Homo sapiens: one gene and its partner. The protein of the gene in region 2 purifies or fractionates together with the protein of the main gene of each other region. This does not show direct contact. Each region holds a gene or a part of one and is shown on either strand. Other genes may lie near its edges.

The links. The genes of interacting proteins can lie anywhere in the genome.
Region 1: the proteins of DEFB110 (region 2) and CAMKMT purify together in Homo sapiens (affinity purification with mass spectrometry; one large-scale study listed by BioGRID and IntAct). This does not show direct contact.

The regions. Positions count from the first base shown.
Region 1 is NC_000002.12:44,371,892-44,375,547, reverse strand, and holds part of CAMKMT (calmodulin-lysine N-methyltransferase), read right to left. Parts: intron 2,833-3,656; coding exon 2,660-2,832; intron 1-2,659.
Region 2 is NC_000006.12:50,019,853-50,023,608, forward strand, and holds the start of DEFB110 (beta-defensin 110 isoform a precursor), read right to left. Parts: upstream 2,143-3,756; 5' UTR 2,084-2,142; coding exon 2,029-2,083; intron 1-2,028.

The DNA.
Region 1 (3,656 bases), on a different chromosome or scaffold from region 2:
TATTAAGTGTGAGTATTCCACTCATTTTGAAAGTACTTATGCACAGCCTGGTGAGAGTTCTTACACTGAATAGTTAACTTTCCTTATTTAATTATTTTTATTATTTAACTTTTATCTATTTCAGCTCCTTAAGCATAGTATTGTATATTTATATTTATTTCTGTTTTTTTATATATATATAGAAGGTGCTATTAAATATTTATTGGTTTGAATTTAACACTATTCATCCCTTTTTTTTCAATCATCATTACTGCTGATTAAACAAACTTAAAAAATATAGAGGAAGATGAGAGTACTCCACTTCATTGCAAAACTACTTCTAAACCACTGCTTTGGGCTATTCCAAGTAATATTAAAAAACAAAACAAAAAAAAAACAGAAACCCTGGCCAGGCATGGTGGCTCAAGCCTGTAATCCCTAAAGGGGTCTCACTCTATCGCCCAAACTGGAGTGCAGTGGCATGATTATGGCTCACTGCAGCCTTGAAATCCTGGGCTGTAAGGATTCTCCTGCCTCAGCCTCCTGAGTGCCTGGGACTACAAGCACATACCACCACCCCTGGCTAATTTTTAAAATTTTTTGTAGAGACAGGGTTTCCCTATGTTGCCAAGGCTAGTCTTGAACTCCTGGCCTCAAGTGATCGTCTTGCTTCGGCCTCCCAAAGTACTGTTATTTTTGCACTAATGTGGACAGATACTAACTAGTTTGAAAAAAAAAATCTTGGCAGCCAATGAAGCCAACACTTTAGCTCAGTCACGTGTCTTTTTTCCAACTCAATGTCATATTTGTATAGATATACATTTATTCTTTCATATATCACAAGAAGATATATCACAAAGAACAATGCTGTTGGAAAGGAGTCCCAGTTTACTCTATAGCTTGGGCTCTGGATAGTACTACATGAGGATCATCTCTACAAGTGGATAACCATGACTTGCTTTGAAAGATCTCAAGAAGAGACTATTTCACATTCTCACTGGCTAACCCTTACCAGGGCCTTGAAGATGTCAGGAAATTATTCTTGCTATAATTTATACTTATTGTCTCTTTTCACCAGTGGATGCAGAAGATAAGTTTTAGAACTTTATACCTAAAGACCCCTACTGGATCACTCTGTCCTTTCTTGTCTTTCATTTCCTTCTAAATGTTTAATCATTTCCATTCCTGCTTCACAAAGTTATTGTAAGGATCACTTGAAATGGAATACATCAAAACACCTAGCTCTGTACCTGACACAGAGTAAGCATATACCTTTCTTTCCTTTCTAACCAAGGACAAAACTGATTATCTCCATCAAAAGGCAAAGCAGTTGGGGTATCCTAATGAGAATCTCATAATTAATGTACAGGTACACCCCAAAATCTGTAAGTTTATATATTTTATTTGGCATTTTCTTTACTTTGATTTTTTTTTTTTTTTTTTTTTTTTTTGAGGCAGAGTCTTACTCTGTCATCCAGGCTAGAATGCAATGGCACAGCTCACAGCAGCCTCAACCTCCCGGGCTCAATCAATCTTTCCACCTCAGCCTCTGGAGTAGCTAAGACCATAGGCACATGCCACCATGCCCAATTAATTTTTGTATTTTTTGTAAAGGTGGGGTTTTGCCATGTTGCCCAGGCTGGTCTTGAACTCCTAGGGTCAAGTGATCCACCCACCTTGGCCTCCTGAAGTGCTAGGATTACAGGCATGAGCCACTGCGCCCAGCCGGCATTTTCAGTAAAATAGTATTATAAAACCAGATTCTAATTGTTCTTTCCTGCCCAACCTAGTCAATTTTTATCCAAATCCCAATTTTTAGCTATTATGTTTTAAAGCTTAGATATTCTAAACTAAAATAGCTCGAGAAACATATACTATAAAAAGATACCCTTTGTGAAAATTTTTTTCTTAAAATTATTCCTAGCCTCACCTAAACCTTATTCAGTCACATTTACACTTAAAATGTTTTTTGCTCTTCTTACAGTTACTGTAAATGTGCTCCTCCCTCCCTTTCAAAATGTGAAATACTGTCAGAAAAGGCAGATTTTATAAAATCAAACACCTACAGTAATATTGCAACATGCTAGAACATAACTGTGAGAGAAAATTAATTCAGTAAAATGGTATCTTGTTATTGCAGTCTGTAACTCTCTTGTCTCTTTTCTAATGATTTTTAAAGTCAGAACAGTCCATATGCTTCTTACAATATCAGTGTTTTCAGTTGAATTTTCTCCTTTAGTCTTAAGATTGATTCTATTCTGAAAGTAATAAAAAAATAAATAAATGGAAAAAATACCAAAGCTTGATTTTTCAGATTATTACTTGAAGGGTAGTTTGGAAAAATTCTGTTTTCACTTTCAGCCCCTTCTTTGCCTCAGAACAAACATGGCTTTTTGTCATAAACAAATGTTATGACAGAATGTTTAAATGAACCCTTTGATTTGCAACCACCTTATCTTCAAATGCCACTATATTTGTGAGAACTTGTTTCCTTTAGTCTGATAATACAGCAAGACCCAGTTAAAATAGCAGGATTTCCTAAAACAAGTTGTAAAACCTAAGTTCTGAAAAAGATTGCCCGTAAACTCAATAGAATAAATAATGATGATTCTTATTAGATTGTTTTTCTTATCCAAGAGAAATCTAGTGTTTACAAAATCTTAACTAGAATAATGGTTACCTTAAGGAGATACTGTATTCAGGACAGAAGATGCTTGTATATTGGACCCATGCACCAACCTCCTCTTCAGTTTCCCTTTCTTTGCCTTCTGTTACTGAAAACAGATTAAATGATTCAAATCTTCTTACAGATACATGTCGCAGGCAATCATCCAGGTGTTTTTGCTTCAGAACCTTTGAAATAAAGCCAAATATTGCAGTCATGTTATCTAAACATATAGTAAGTTTAGTGTTCAAAATGTTCAAAATTTAAGTGGTAAGGGGACTTTCCCTTCTAATAATGACAGATTAGATAATTCAGATATATCTCCTACTGAAGATAACTATAAAAGATGAACAAAATATTTTAAAGCATTACTTGAAGACATCAGAGAGCAAAGACAGTGAAGATTTACAAGTCTGATATCTTTTTTTTTTTTTTTTGAGACAGGATCTTACTTTGTCACGCAGCCTCACTGTCACCCAGCCTGTCACCCAGCTGGGTTCAGGCGATCCTCCTACCTCAGGCTCCCTAGCAGCTGGAACTAAAAGTATGCACCACCACGTCTGGTTAATTTTTTAAATTTTTTGTAGAGATGGGGTCTCCCTATATTACCCAGGCTGGATTCAAACTCCTGGGCTCAAGTGATCTTCAACCCTGGCCTCCCAAAGTGCTGGGATTACAGAAGTGAGCCACAGCACTTGGCTTGCAGTCTTATATCTTTAAAAGGAGAAAACCTACAAAGGTTACTCTGACTTTTGCAACCACTTTTCTCCTGGGGATATGTGTCAATTCTAAAAGAAAGAACCAAGAAGATAAGCTGCTTCTTTAACAACCTATGGAGCTAGGAGAGAAAAGTTGAATTTCAAAGCTTACCTAGGAATGGGGAGGTATATTGAGTATGCAAGGTATGTATGTTTTAGCATAATGAATAATTTTGCTGGTGTTGCTAAAAGCCAGGTTTTTAAGTGTGGGGCATATCAACCAATAATAATGCTTGGATTTTATTTGGATCCTC
Region 2 (3,756 bases):
GGAGCCAAATCCACCCTGCCACCTATTTTTGGAAGTAATTTTAGTGGCACGCAGACACACCCATTTGCTAACACATTGTCTATAACTGCTTTTGCATTAAAATAATGCAGTTGAGATCATAGGGTTCATAAAACCTACAATATTGGTTGTCTCACTTATTTCTAGAAAAAGTGTGTTAACTCCTACTCTGGCTTTATATTTTCTTATCAATCATGAAAGAATGGGTGAGGGATTTGTAGCTGGGGTCACAAGAAGACATGTCCAGGAGAGCAAAACTGCAACTAAAATTTGCACATTATAAGAAACACAAAATTTGACACAATACAAAAATAACTTTGTAATAGTCAAAGCTGTAAGAAAAGATATGTTTTTTTTTTAGCTTAAAGATGGACTCTCACTAGAAGTTTCTTATTTAGAATTGAATATATTTAGGGGGTTTGAGGACATTGGTTTGATTGGTTATGTGATCTATTCCAAGTCAATTTTTTTAAGTTTATATTTTAAATTGTACCAAGTCAAAATTTTTTTATTTTATATTTTAAATTGTACCCTGGCCGATTCGTTTTCAGAAGTCATTTGTTTTGTAGCCTTTTTTTTTTGTATACACATCAAATTCTTGACCAAAGGACAGATTTAATATTTTCACATATGAAAACAAATAAATTATGCCACTGTTTCCTGCTATTAATTATTGCTTGGTCTTCTCAAAGGCCAGGCCTTTTGGCCTAGGCAGTCTGTCTGCAGTTCCAACAGCTGACACCTGATGGTGAGTAGTAATACCTGTTAGCTAATACATAGACTCAGAGCTACATTATCTATGTCATTGGTATAATGGCTATAAAACCAAGTCCTACTATTAATATTGGCTTTCTTCTCAATGTAACCAAAGCAATTCAGAGTATGAAGCAACTTAAAGAAACAAAAGCATAGAAGAGCATCTAGTTAATCTGCACAATTTAAATATTCACTTCTAAAGATCATTACTTATTCTACATTTTCTGAGGAGTTATTATTATCAAACCCATATGTGATTACCCGTGACAGACACCTGAATTATACTCACTTTTGGCAAAAGTTCTGTCATGTTTGGCACTGTTGTCCATGAATGCACCTTGGACTGACCCCACCCCTTCTCTTATTCATTCTTTGTCTTATTTCACCTTTCTAAAACATTATTGTCTTCTTTCTCCTCATTCTGACCTCTACATGTGTTCTCCAGTTTGTGTCCTTGGATTGCTAATCTCCTTTGCAAGCATTCATCTCCTCATTCAAATAGTATCAATTAAATATACTCCCTGTCAATTGGATGCCAAGCTCAAGGGCATGGTGTCTCACTCTAAGCAATATTGATCTTTTGAATAGGACAATTCTTTGCTCTAAGGGGCTGTTCCATGCATTGTAGGTTATTTAGCAGCATCCTGGGTTCTATCTACAACTGGTACTGTGCCAGTAGTACAAGTTGTGATGAGCTAAAAGGTCTCTAGACGTTGCCTGATGTTCCCTTGAGCACAAATTCACTCCTCTCTGAGAACCACTGGTCTAGTGATACTTCGATATTTCAATAATTATTATTTCTGCCTTCAAATACATTGTTCAAGTCCAATCTGTCTGAAGTCTCTGATCATTACTTTCAACAAAGTAAAATCTCTCTCCATTTCTGTCTCACATCACTTTTTGTTATGATATTATTTTAGATTCACAGAAGAGTTGCAAAGTTGGTGGAAGCCAGCTTCCACTTATGTTATATATTGCATAAACTTGGTAATGTTAATTAAGATTAACGAATTAATGTTGATGTAATAGTATTTACTAAGCTATTCAGATTTTGCCAGTTTTCATACTTGTTATTTTTGTCTGTTTTTCACTATTGTCTTTATTATCTGTTCTGGAGTCCAATCTAAAATACCACATTACATTTTTGTGAAATGATGTTTTAATCCCTATGTTATTATCATATTTTTTATCAAGAAACAACTTATGTCTTCTCAAATTTGTTAGTATAAATCCCCACAAATATTTGCATATTACCTGGTAAAATTGTGACCCAAAAGTGCAGAATAAAGAAAAAAAGTTGAATCTTCATGGTAGAGAGTTTCTTAAAAAAAGGGGGCAACAGACCTCCTTTTTCAAGTCAGTTGTTTTGAAATAAGGAAACAGAGATCCCTTTTATTTGTGGATTCTCCTGGGAAGTACTTTTAACCACTGAGGCTTATCAAGAGCAAGAACATTTGTATGCTTGGTTGAATAGTGCCACCCTCAAAGAACATGAACTCAAAAAGTATTATTAAATTTTTCTCATAAAAGTAAAACCTGCTGTGTAACCTTAACTAGACTTTCATGAAAACAACACAGTTTTTAAGATATTTTATTTATAGGGGATATGTGTTTGGATTGCTAAATGTTATAGTAATCATCTCCTCTATTCTATGTTATATGTAATATTAAGTATTCTAATGCCTTAGTATAAAATTGTTGAATGCCTGAATCATAAGATTTTAGAGAAAAAGTTTCCATTGAGATCAGTTTTGTTTTGCTGATAAAACAATGAGAACCAGGGAGATTAAATAACTTTATTTCAATTAATATAATATGCAATTATTTAAATAATCAGTAAATTCTGGATTCACTAAAAATGTGAGAAATATTCTATATGTCTTTTTTTTTTTTTTTTTTTTTTGAGATGGAGTCTGGCTCTGTCACCCAGGCTGGAGTGCAGTAGCACCATCTCAGCTCACTGCAACCTCTGCCTTCCAGGTTCAGGTGATTCTCCTGCCTCAGTCTCCTGAGTAGCTGGGATTACCGGTGCCTGCCACCACGCCTGACTAATTTTTGTATTTTTAAAAGAGATAGAGTTTCACCATGTTGGTCAGGCTGGTCTCAAACTCCTGACCTCATGATCCACCCGCCTCGGCTTCCCAAAGTGCTGGGATTACAGTCATGAGCCACCATGCCCGGCCAAGTCTTTGTATGATTCATAAATTTTCTATAGTCATCTGATTTCAAAATTTCAGGTTCAATGTTTTAATTCTGTTTATGGAACTGAAAATTTCATATCTGATCTAAATTGCATGCTTGCAAAAACTATTATTTTGGATATGTGAGAAAGAGCTGGAAGTTTTGCCCAGTACTCAGAAGCTGATGCTATAAAGAAAAACAATTGGCCAGGTGTGGTGGCTCACACCTGTAATTCCAGCACTTTGGGAGGCTGAGGCGGGTGGATCACCTGAGGTCAGGAGTTCTAGATCAGACTGGCCAACATGGTGAAACAACCCCGTCTCTACTAAAAATACAAAAATTAGCCGGCCATGGTGGCAGGCACCTGTAATCCCAGCTACTCAGGGGTCCAAGGCAGGAGAATCACTTGAACCTGGGAGGCAGAGGTTGCAATGAGCCAAGATTGTACCATTGCACTCCAGCCTGGGGTAAAAGAGTGAGACTTCCTCTCAAAAAAAAAAAAAAAAAAAAAAAAGAAAGAAAAAGAAATCAATTAATCAATTATTTCCTACCACATAGTTAATTTTTAAGACAGTGGTTCCTAAACTTTAGCTGCATCAGAATCCCTTAGAAAGCTTGCTAAAATCAGATTGCAGTGTCCCACCCCCGGCATTTCTGATTTAGTAGATCTGGAATAGGGACTAAAATTTGCTTTTCTAACAAGATCATTGAATGCTAATGCTGCTGAAAGGGACCACATATTAGTCTAGGAAACCTAACTCATTCATTCTATAATGTCTAGGAAAAATGTTTCACAGAGTC